Homo sapiens: one gene and its partners. The protein of the gene in region 2 purifies or fractionates together with the protein of the main gene of each other region. This does not show direct contact. Each region holds a gene or a part of one and is shown on either strand. Other genes may lie near its edges. The genes, in order: PKN3, GIT2 and GOLGA5.

Region 1 (3,725 bases), on a different chromosome or scaffold from region 2:
GGTGCTAGTCCGGTCCCCGAAGCCGATCCCTGCAAACCAACAGGCACACCAATAGCTGCTTGGTGTGGCCTATTCACAATAACTTCAATAGCCAAGCCTTATGATGCCAGGGAGCTGAGCCTGTGCCAAGCCCTGCCCTGTACCCAAGGAAGTGGGAATGGTTATGACGCCATTTGACTGCATGCAGAGCCAAGCTCACAGGCTAAGGTCACAGAAGGCAGAACTCGGCTGGGTGCGGTGGCTCACACCTGTAATCCCAGCACTTTGGGAGGCCGAGGTGGGCAGATCATGAGGTCAGGAGTTCGAGACCAGCCTGGCCAACATGGTGAAACCCCGTCTCTACTAAAAATACAAAAAATAAGCTGGGTGTGGTGGCATGTGCCTGTAATCGCAGGTACTCGGGAGGCTGAGGCAGGAGAATCTCTTGAACCTTGGAGGCAGAGGTTGCAGTGAGCCGAGATTGCGCCATTGCACTCCAGCCTGGGCAACAGGGCAAGACTCCATCTCAAAAAAAAAAGAAGCCGGGCGCAGTGGCTCACGCCTGTAATCCCAGCACTTTGGGCGGCCAAGGTGGGTGGATCATGAGGTCAGGAGATCGAGACCATCCTCGCTAACACAGTGAAACCCCGTCTCTACTAAAAAAATACAAAAATTAGCCAGGTGTGGTGGTGCTCGCTTGTAGTCCCAGCTACTTGGGCTGCTGAGGCAAGAGAATCGCTTGAACCCAGTAGGTGGAGGCTGCAGTGAGCCGAGACTGCACCACTGCATTGCATCCTGGGCGGCACAGCAAGACTCCGTCTCAAAAAAAAAAACAAACCAAAAAAAAAACAGAAGGCAGAACTCAGTCTCCTCTCCCATCCCTGACCACAGGCTCTCCCTTGGGCCAGGTGCAGGCTGGGGCTACGAGCCTCTAGGACTAGGAAGAAAGGGCCAGTGTGCCCAGCTGTCCCCTGGAATGAGGTCTGGGGTGGTGGAACCAGGGCATCCGCAGGTGAGGAGATTTCCTGGGACATGCCATGTGCCCATCATCCTATTGGCCAGGGTGGGTAAACAAGGCTGGAGATATGGATCCCAATGGGCGGCCCCCACCTTCCTTGCAGAGTCCAAAGTCTGCGATCTTCAGGAATCCCTGGGCATCCAGCAGAAGGTTATCCAACTTCAGGTCCCTGAGGGCAAGGGTGCAGATCAAAGGGACTGAGTGGGGCTTAGACCCAGGGAACAGTAACGGCCCCTGGAGCAGCCCAGGCAGGCGGAGGCAGCATCTGTCCTTACCCACTCCACCCCCACCCCCACCCCTACCCCCGTGCATCCCTGGGACAAAAGTCACCTGTAAATGATCTTCTTCTCGTGTAAGAACTGCAGCCCCAGGACAACACAAGCCACGTAGAAGCTGCAGGGGTGGTTATGGGAGAACTCAGGCCCAAGACACACACCAGGGAGGCAGGGCAGGGAGGCACCAGGATGGCCATAGCGGGGGGATCCCGGATGTCCCGGCCAGAGTCAGAGATGAGTGAGACTGGGACAAGCATCATGCTGAGGGTGGGGGTGCTCCAATAGTCCCAAGGTCGCCCCAAGGTTGCGTGCATTTCCAGCTCACCCTTCATGGGCCCTTAAATGGTGCCAGGGACCAAGTGTTGGTCCCTGCAGTGGATATTCATCATGCCTATTTTTTTTTTTTTTGAGACGGAGTCTCACTCTGTCACCCAGGCTGCAGTGCAGCGGTGCGATCTCGGCTCACTGCAACCTCCACCTCCTGGGTTCAAGCAATTCTCCTGCCTCAGCCTCCCAAGTAGCTGAGACTACAGGCACGCGCCACCACGCCCAGCTAATTTTTTTTTTTTTTTTTTTTTTTTAGTTTTTATAGAGATAGGGTTTCACCATGTTGGCCAGGATGGTCTTGATCTCTTGACCTCATGATCCACACGCCTCAGCCTCCCAAAGTGTGGGGATTACAGGCATGAACCAACGTGCCCGGCCTTTTTTTTTTTTTTTTTAGATGGAGTCTCACTCTGTCGCCAGACCGAAGTGGCGGGATCTCGGCTCACTCCAACCTCCGCCTCCTGGGTTCAAGCGATTCTCCTGCCTTAGCCTCTCAAGTAGCTAGGATTACAGGCGTGTGCCACCATGCCTAGCTAATTTTTGTATTTTTAGTAGAGACAAGATTTTACCATGTTGGCCAGGTCACGAACTCCTGACCTCAGGTGATCCACCCGCCTCAGCCTCCAAAGTGCTGGGATTACAGGTGCCCGGCCAATCATGCCTATTTTTCAAATAAAGATCTGAGACTCACCAGGTGTGGTGGCTCACGCCTGTAATCTCAGCACTTTGGAAGGCCGAGGTGGGCGGATCACTTGAGGTCAGGAGTTAGAGACCAACCTGACCAACATGGAGAAACCTCGTCTCTACTAAAAATACAAAATTAGACAGGAGTGGTGGTGCATGCCTGTAATCCCAGCTACTCAGGAGGCTGAGGCAGGAGAATGGCTTGAACCAGGGAGGCGGAGGTTGTGGTGAGCCGAGATCATGCCATTGCACTCCAGCCTGGGCAATAAGAGCCAGACTCTGTCTCACAAAAAAAAAAAAAAAAAAAAAAAAAAGAAACCTAATGCACAGCTTCATAAGCTGATACCCAGGATCACAAATGCTGTCAGTTGGTGCCAGGATGTAAACCAAGGCCTCTGACTCCTGCTCCCCTGCTGTTGGGCACTTGGAGAAAGCAGTATGTAGAGAGTGGGTGTAGGGAACCAGGCAAAGTTTGCTGGAAGAGGCAGGCAGGAGGGATGGAACCCACCGGGCCTGGGGCTCGGGGAAGACATCCTCGTGGATCTGCATCATGAGGTCACCACCAGGCACAAACTCAGTCACAAAGCAGGCATGGCTGGAGGTCTGGAAGCAGGCAAGGAGGGAGAGCAGGAAAGGGTGCCCTGTGCAGCCCACAGCCTCCAGGATCCGCTTCTCGCAGTACAGGCTACAGGAGAGAGCAAGAGTATTAGAGGGAAGGAAAACTTTCCCTGGGCTGTGCCCTGTGCCCTGCACAACACCCCTGGCTCACTGGGCCCTCAGCCAAAGTGCCAGGCAAGTAGACTGATGGTTTCTTTTCATTTTTTTTTTTTTTTTGAGACACAGTCTTGCTCTGTCGCCTGGGCTGGAGTGCTGTGGTGTGATCTCAGCTCATTGCAACCTCTGCCTCCCGGGTTCAAGAGATTTTTGTGCCTCAGCCTCCCGAGTAGCTGGGATTATAGGAGTGCGCCACCACGCCCAGCTAATTTTTGTATTTTTAGTAGACGCAGGGTTTCGCTGTGTTGCCCAGGCTGGTCTCGAACTCTTGGCCTCAAGTTATCCACCTGCTTCGGCCTTCCAGAATGCTGGGATTACAAGTGTGAGCCAGTGCGCCCAGCCTTTTTTTTTTTTTTTTTTGAGACAGGGTCTCACTTTCTTGCCCAGGCTGGAGTGATGTGGTGCGATCTCGGCTCACTGCAGCCTCCGCCACTGAGGTTCAAGTGATCCTCCCACCACAGCTTCACGAGTAGCTGGGTGTGCACCACCACGCCCAGCTAATTTTTGTATTTTTTGTAGAGGCGGGTTTCACCATGTTGTCCAGGCTGGCCTCGAACTCCTGGGCTCAAGCAATCCTCCCACCTTGGCCTCCTGAAGTGCTGGGATTACAGGCATGAGCCACTGTGCCCAGCCTCCCCCTCCTTTTTTTTTTTTTAATTAGTTTTTTT
Region 2 (3,725 bases):
AAATCCAGTAGCACATCAAAAGTTAATCCACCATGGCTGGGCGCAGTGGCTCAGGCCTGTAGTCCCGGCACTTTGGGAAGCTGAAACAGGCGGATCATGAGGTTAGGAGTTCGAGACCAGCCTGGCCAACGTGGTGAAACCCCGTCTCTACTAAAGATACAAAAAATGGCCGGGCGTGGTGGCTTACGCCTGTAATCCCAGCACTTTGGGAGGCCGAGGTGGGCGGATCACGAGGTCAGGAAATCGGGACCATCCTGGTTAACACAGTAAAACCTCGTCTCTACTAAAAATACAAAAAAATTAGCCGGGTGTGGTGGCGGACGCCTGTAGTCCCAGCTACTCAGGAGGCTGAGGCAGGAGAATGGCATGAACCCGGGAGGCGGAGCTTGAAGTGAGCCAAGATTGCGCCACTGCACTCCAGCCTGGGCCACAGAGCAAGACTCCGTCTCAAAAACAAACAAACAAACAAACAAACAAAAAAAAACCAAAAGATTAGCTGGGCCTGGTGGCACGTGCCTGTAATCCCAGCTACTTGGGAGGCTGAGGCAGGAGAATCACTTGAACCTGGGAGGCGGAGGTTGTAGTGAGCCAAGATCATGCCATTGCACTACAGCCTGGACTACAGAGCGAGACTCTGTCTCAAAAAAATAAAAAATAAAAAATAAAAATAAAAATAAAAAAATTAACCCATCATGATCAAGTAGGCTTTTTTGCTGAGATTCAAGGCTGGCTCAACATACACAAATCAATAAATGTAATTTGCCACATCAATAGAAGTAAAAGCAGGCCAGGCGCGGTGGCTCCTGCCTGTAATCCCAGTACTTTGGGAGGCCGAGGCGGGAGGATCACGAGGTCAGGAGATCGAGACCATCCTGGCTAACATGGTGAAACCCTGTCTCTACTAAAAATACAAAAAAAATTAGCCGGGTGTGGTGGTGGGCACCTGTAGTCCCAGCTACTTGGGAGGCTGAGGCAGGAGAATGGCATGAACCTGGGAGGCAGAACTTGCAGTGAGCTGAGATCGCACCACTGCACTCCAGCTTGGGCGACTGAGCAAGACTCTATCTCAAAAATAAATAAAAATAAATAAATAAATAAATAAATAAATAGAAGCAAAAGCAAAAACCACATGATCATCTCAATAGATGCAGAAAATGTTTTCTTTTTTTGAGACAGGGTCTTGCTCTGTTGTCCAAGCTGGAGTGCCATGGTGTAATCTCAGCTCACTGCAACCTCCACCTCCTGGGCTCAAGTCATCCTCCAACCTCAGCCTCCCAGGTAGCTGGTACTACAGGCACGGCCACCATACCCGGCTAAAATTGTTATATTCTTTGTAGAGACGGGGTTTCGCCATGTTGCCCAGGCTGGTCTTGAACTTCTGAGCCCAAGTGATCTGCCAGTCTCAGTCTCCCAAAGTGCTGGGATTACAGGAGTGAGCCATCGCACCCGGCCAAAAAGTAATAAAAAAAGTTCTGAATAAGTAAGTTCTCATGCTCTGTGTGAGTAAGCATTTATCCAAGGCAGCGCTTTGAAAATATGCACATTTCTTACAGCATCTCTCAAAAACATGCGAAGGCCCACATAAAGAAAACCACCTCACTCGTTTTACAAGTATCATAAACCATTCTGTGTACTATAGCTTTGAGTCACACATTGCTTTCTGAAGATCATACTTACTGTTCAACCTGGAAACCTGAAGAAGTCCCCTTCCTTTAGTACTTTTTCTAGTCCTTATTAAAAAGAAACAATTGTCCTATAATCTTTCTAGTCCCTTCTAGAAACAACTCTGAGATGGTTCCTATTTCAAAGTTAAACAAACAAAAAACTTATCAAAATATAATTTAAAAGCCATATTGGAAAAACACAAACAGCCTTCCAGAGACTTACTTTTCCTCTTTGCCCTGAACCTCCACTATATGAATGGCTGCCATTTGAATTCAGATTAAAGACGAAACCGACTGACAAAAAAGCTATTAATTAATGAATGTGCAGAAATGAGTTTTTGTTTTTCTTTCTTTAAAAACTTTTTTCAGCCTGGGCAACATAGCAAGAACCCGTCTCTACAAAAAATAAAAAATATTAGCTGGGTATGGTAATGCGCCTGTAGTTCCAGCTACTCGGGAGGCTGAGGTGGAAGGATTGCTAGAGCCTGGATGGTCAAGGCTGCAGTGAACCGTGATTGCACCACTGCACTCCAGCCTGGGCAACAGAGCAAGACCCTGTCTCAAAAAAAACAAACGAAAAACAAAAAAACCCTGGCCGGGTGCAGTGGCTCACGCTTGCAATCCCAACACTAGGAGGCCGAGGCAGACGGATCACCTGAGCTCAGGAGTTCGAAACCAGCCTGGCCAACATGGTGAAACCCCGTCTCTACTAAAAATACAAAAATTAGCTGGGCATGGTGGCATGCGCCTGTAATCCCAGCTACCTAGGAGGCTGAGGCAGGAGAATCGCTGGAACCCGGGAGGCAGAGGCTGCAGGGAGCCAAGATCGCGCCACTGTACTCCCGCCTGGGTAACAGAGACTCTGTCTCAAAAAAAAAAAAAAAAAAAAAAAGCCCACAACCAGACTTTTTTTTCGTTTTTTCAAATAAAACAATATGCTGTCTCAGCCCGCTCTTTTAGGGATTTTAAAAGGTGTGACCCACCTTGCTAAGATCTTTGGCAGTCACACTATCGTCATCCCGGCAGGGCAAGCGATGGACGAACGCTAACATCTGATACTTGGCTCTGATGAATTCCGCTTTATTGGGACTGGTTCAAAAACAAAAAAGAAAACAGTTCACTCGTTCAGATACAACAATCCCCATTCTTTGTACTGTAAAAAGAAGAGGAAGTGACCCACATCCCCCACTTGAGAATAAAATGAACAATGCTCAAGTAAGTTTCAGCAAGGTTTAAGACCTGCAGTTTGAAAACATACATTAGTTATTATAATGGCTGGGACTCCAGAGTACCTGCTTTTTATAGTAGCCCTCTTCTCTGTGTAATTGTCTGAACTGATTTAGCAACTTTGGGAGAAAGCAGCATTTAGTCCCATCTTATAAGTGAGGCAACAGGCAGACGGGTGCCCAGACCTAGATTTCTGGTCTGATCGCCTCTTATTTGAGTATAAGTTTAAATCTGATTACATTTACAGACTCCAAGCCATGGTTTCCAACTGAGGAAGCCACTTACTCCTGCTGGGTGGCCATGCTAAACAGATGGTCCTGCCCCACCCCATTCTGCATTTCTAATAGCAAAGAACCTGATGCACAACTAGGGTAACCCCCTCCTCTGCTGCCCTTGCGGAGACTGACCAAAAATAGCTGCACTCCTTTCAGTGGGCCCCATTTGTTATGAAGAAATAAAAGTATTTATAAACATTCCACTCACTGTACTTTATCCTGTGGATTAGCTTTACGTCTTCCACTCATAATAGACGCAGGGTCCAGCAAAGAATGCTCCCATATAGAGTTAGCACCGTTATTATACAAGGTCTCAACCATCTAAAACCAAGCAGGATGACATAAGACTTTAATTTCTTTTCACAAATATTCAATGGGGATCAGTGACTGAACAGAGTAAACAAAGTCCTGTTATAAACACTCATTTGTTAGGAATATCATTCATATCATTGTTTTCTGATTTGAGAATGAGAAAGATGATCAATCTATATGCAGGATTCAGCTTTGACTAGTAGGATAGTTAAATACCTAAAGTGTGACTGAACTGTTCTTATTCTGT
Region 3 (3,500 bases), on a different chromosome or scaffold from region 2:
AGCTATGTCAACTCTTGACTTAAAGATCTCTACTAGCATCACACTGGCTATGGCAGCCACTTTCAACTTTTATTGGCTAAGAACCACCCACAGAACAACAACAACAAAATCAGATGCCCTGGCTCCATCCCCAGAAAATAACGATTCAGGAAGCCTGGGAAGGCACTCAATAATTCATTTTTAAATTAACAACACACAAGCGATTCTAAAGCCTGTTGTTCAGGAATCAATCTTTAACAATGATTATAGAAGTAATGGGTTTAATTGCATAAACAGTATGACACAAGGGCCTTCACAAACAGGTCCCAACTTTGTTTGCTAGCTACATTTTCTTCATCACCCTCCAACTCACTCAGTGTTTCCAACTTTGTTACAATGTTTTCTACTCTACTAGCCTCTTAGAGTCTGTTCTCTCTGCATGGAATGCTGTCTCTAACTTTTTACCTGGCAAACTCCTGTTCATTCTTTAAGACCCAGCTAAAAATACAGACCCTCTGTGAATCCTTTCTGAATACCCTAGGCAATTAGTTACTTCCTCCTTCATACTTCCACAACACTCTGACCATACTTAATTGCTACATTTACTAGACCACAAGTAAATTATCTGTTTACATGTCTAGCTCACCCACTGGACACTTCCATATCCTTGCACCTAGTAGGTTCTTTGTGTAATTAATTGAAAGATAGCTGAGAAGAAATTTTGGAATATGTGAACATATTAATCAACTGCTACTGCCTGATCCTATTTTCACAACCCAAAACGTCTTCTTCTATACAAGTTTTTGTCTTGAAAATACAAGAAAGATTTTATTCACTAACAGCCAAGACAATGAAAGAAGCTATAACATCCAAGAACATGACAATCTCCCATCAATAATCAACTCTATAAAGAATCCCTGGCCAGGTGTGGTGGCTCACGCCTGTAATCTCAGCACTTTGGGAGGCCAAGGTGGGCAGATGACTTGAGGTCCGGAGTTCAAGACCAGCCTGGCCAACGTGATGAAACCCTATCTCTACCAAAAAATACAAAAATTAGCCAAGGGTGGTGGTGCACACCTATAGTCCCAGCTACTCGGGAGGCTGAAATGGAGAATCGCTTGAACCCAGGAGGTGGAGGTTGCAGTGAGCTAAGATCGCGTCACTGCACTCCAGCCTGGGCGACAAAGCGAGACTCCGTCTCACAAAAAAATAAATAAATAAATAAATAAAAACATTAAAAAAGGCCAGGCACAGTGGCTCACGCCTGTAATCCCAGCACTTTGGGAGGCCGAGGCGGGCGGATCACAAGGTCAGGAGATCAAGAGCCTCCTGGCTAACAGTGAAACCCTGTCTCTACTAAAAATACAAAAAAAAAAAAAAAATTAGCCAGGCGTGATGGCAGGCGCCTGTAGTCCCAGCTACTTGGGAGGCTGAGGCAGGAGAATGGCATGAACCCAGGAGGTGGAGCTTGCAGTGAGCCAAGATCAGGCCACTGCACTCCAGCCTGGGTGACAGAGTGAGACTCCGTCTCAAAAAAGAAAAAAAAAAAAAAATCCCTATGGCCAGGCCACGGTAGATCATGCCCATAATCCCAATGCTGTGGGAGGTCAAAGTAGGAGGATCACTTGAGCTCAAGACCAGCCAGAGCAACACAGTGAGACACTGTTTCTATTAAAAATAATTTTTTAAAATTAGCTGGGCACAGTGGTGTGCACCTATAGTTCCAGCTACTCAGGAGGCTGAGGCAGGAGGATCGCTTGAGCCTGGGGAGGTCAAAGGTAGTGCGAGCTGTGATAGCATCACGGCACTTAAGCCTCGGCGATAGAGCAAGACCCTGTCTCAAAACAACAAAAGAATCCCTGCAAGAACCTACTATCAAGTTTTTTGCCTTTTTTCTATTTTTATCTTTGGAGACAGCGTCTCATTCTACGGCCCAGGCTGGAGTGTAGTGGTACAATCTCGGCTCACTGCAACCTCGACCTCCTGAGCTCAATCAATTCTCCCGCCTCAGCCTCCCAAGTAGCTGAGACTACAGGCATGCACCACTGTGCCTGGCTAATTTTTGTATTTTTTGTAGAGACAAAGTTTTGCTATGTTGTTTAGGCTGGTCTCAAACTCCTGGGCACGAGTGCTCTGCCTGCCTCAGCGTTCCAAAGTGCTCGGATTACAGGTGTAAGCCACCACGCCCAGCCTATAGCTATTTTAAAACAGTTAGTAGGTACTTGAATTAGCCACATTTACCACGTTAATCTCATTTCACAAGAAAGAAGGTGTACTTGTAGAGGTAATCTCAGAGGGAATTAAACAATTGAAAACAAGAGTTCTAAGCTCTTGCTTCACTACTAGGTCAATGCCTTCAACTCTTCAACTTGGATCAAAGTTCAGTCTCTCAGCTTTATTTGTGGAGGATGTGGGGGGAAAAACACACAAAAAACACAACCCAGAAAATACGTGAAGTACAGCCTCCTGTCATTTTTATAATCCTAGTAACAAAAAGATATCAACTGGGATAGTCCCCGATCCAAACTGACATGTTTTCTTTCAGATTTCAAAATTTTCTTTTTTTAATCTTAAAATGTCTTAGAGAAACAAATTTGAAATACTTTGTTAGATGCTGAGTGGGTGAAGTTGCCCTCCAGACAACATGAAGTCCCTGCTACAACTGTCTATTGACTAATAGTAGTCAATGATGTCTCCCTTGTTTACACCACACATTTGCAGAGAGTCTGCCCTTACACCAGTGGAGACAGATTCCATAACAGTAGATGAGAAACACCATCGGATCATATGATGACACATTCAATTTGCTTAACTCTAAAAGAAATAAGAGGACTGATTAACTACCGTGGGTTTGGCTCCCAAAAGAATTTTCTTCAATGGTTTTGATGGTGGTTACACTGGGGTTCACAGAACTGACACTTGATGTCTGAGAGCTCTGAAAGACAGGTGTCTTGCCTTTTTCCTTTCTGATTTCCACCCTCCCGGTAGGCTCCTTCTGTGAACTATTAAGAAAATCAAACAGCAGCTCATCATCAGGTTCTGACTTTTTTCTTCGCACAAAATGGGATGAAGGCCTAGGAACAGATGCATTTTCAACAGGATGAGAGGCCTCTACTGGTGTCCGAGATCCTACTTTCACATTTGCAGTGCCAGCTAAGATGGTGGCTTTTTGATTTCGAATGTTATCAGCTGCTGATGAAATATACGTAGATTTAGGTCCAGTCTGATATATCAAATCTGTATTTTGCTGGTGAAGTTCAGTATAGTCAGTATTTTTGCTATATATGTTGCTGGCATTGTCTTTCCTACTGAGAGCTGTTGCAGCCCCTTGATCAACTCGGTTTAAAAGATCTTCTGCCTTTCCAGCAAGATCAACAAACCAAGACATGATGGCAGCAGGATAATCCTATTGGCAAACCTGTAAAAAGGACATAAAATGATCAGTGTGGCATAGTGGCAGAGTATGATAAATGGTTAAGACCAGACTCTGGAGTCAGGCAATCCTGGGTTGAAATCCTAAC

Evidence for each region.
Region 1: the proteins of GIT2 (region 2) and PKN3 purify together in Homo sapiens (affinity purification with mass spectrometry, with the first as the bait; one large-scale study listed by BioGRID). This does not show direct contact.
Region 3: the proteins of GIT2 (region 2) and GOLGA5 purify together in Homo sapiens (affinity purification with mass spectrometry, with the first as the bait; one large-scale study listed by BioGRID). This does not show direct contact.

The regions. Positions count from the first base shown.
Region 1 is NC_000009.12:128,715,990-128,719,714, reverse strand, and holds part of PKN3 (serine/threonine-protein kinase N3), read right to left. Parts: intron 2,969-3,725; coding exon 2,792-2,968; intron 1,391-2,791; coding exon 1,328-1,390; intron 1,167-1,327; coding exon 1,090-1,166; intron 30-1,089; coding exon 1-29.
Region 2 is NC_000012.12:109,986,316-109,990,040, forward strand, and holds part of GIT2 (ARF GTPase-activating protein GIT2), read right to left. Parts: intron 3,488-3,725; coding exon 3,375-3,487; intron 2,754-3,374; coding exon 2,648-2,753; intron 1-2,647. UniProt on the Homo sapiens protein: GTPase-activating protein for ADP ribosylation factor family members, including ARF1.
Region 3 is NC_000014.9:92,797,305-92,800,804, reverse strand, and holds part of GOLGA5 (golgin subfamily A member 5), read right to left. Parts: intron 3,398-3,500; 5' UTR 3,368-3,397; coding exon 2,824-3,367; intron 1-2,823. UniProt on the Homo sapiens protein: Involved in maintaining Golgi structure. Stimulates the formation of Golgi stacks and ribbons. Involved in intra-Golgi retrograde transport.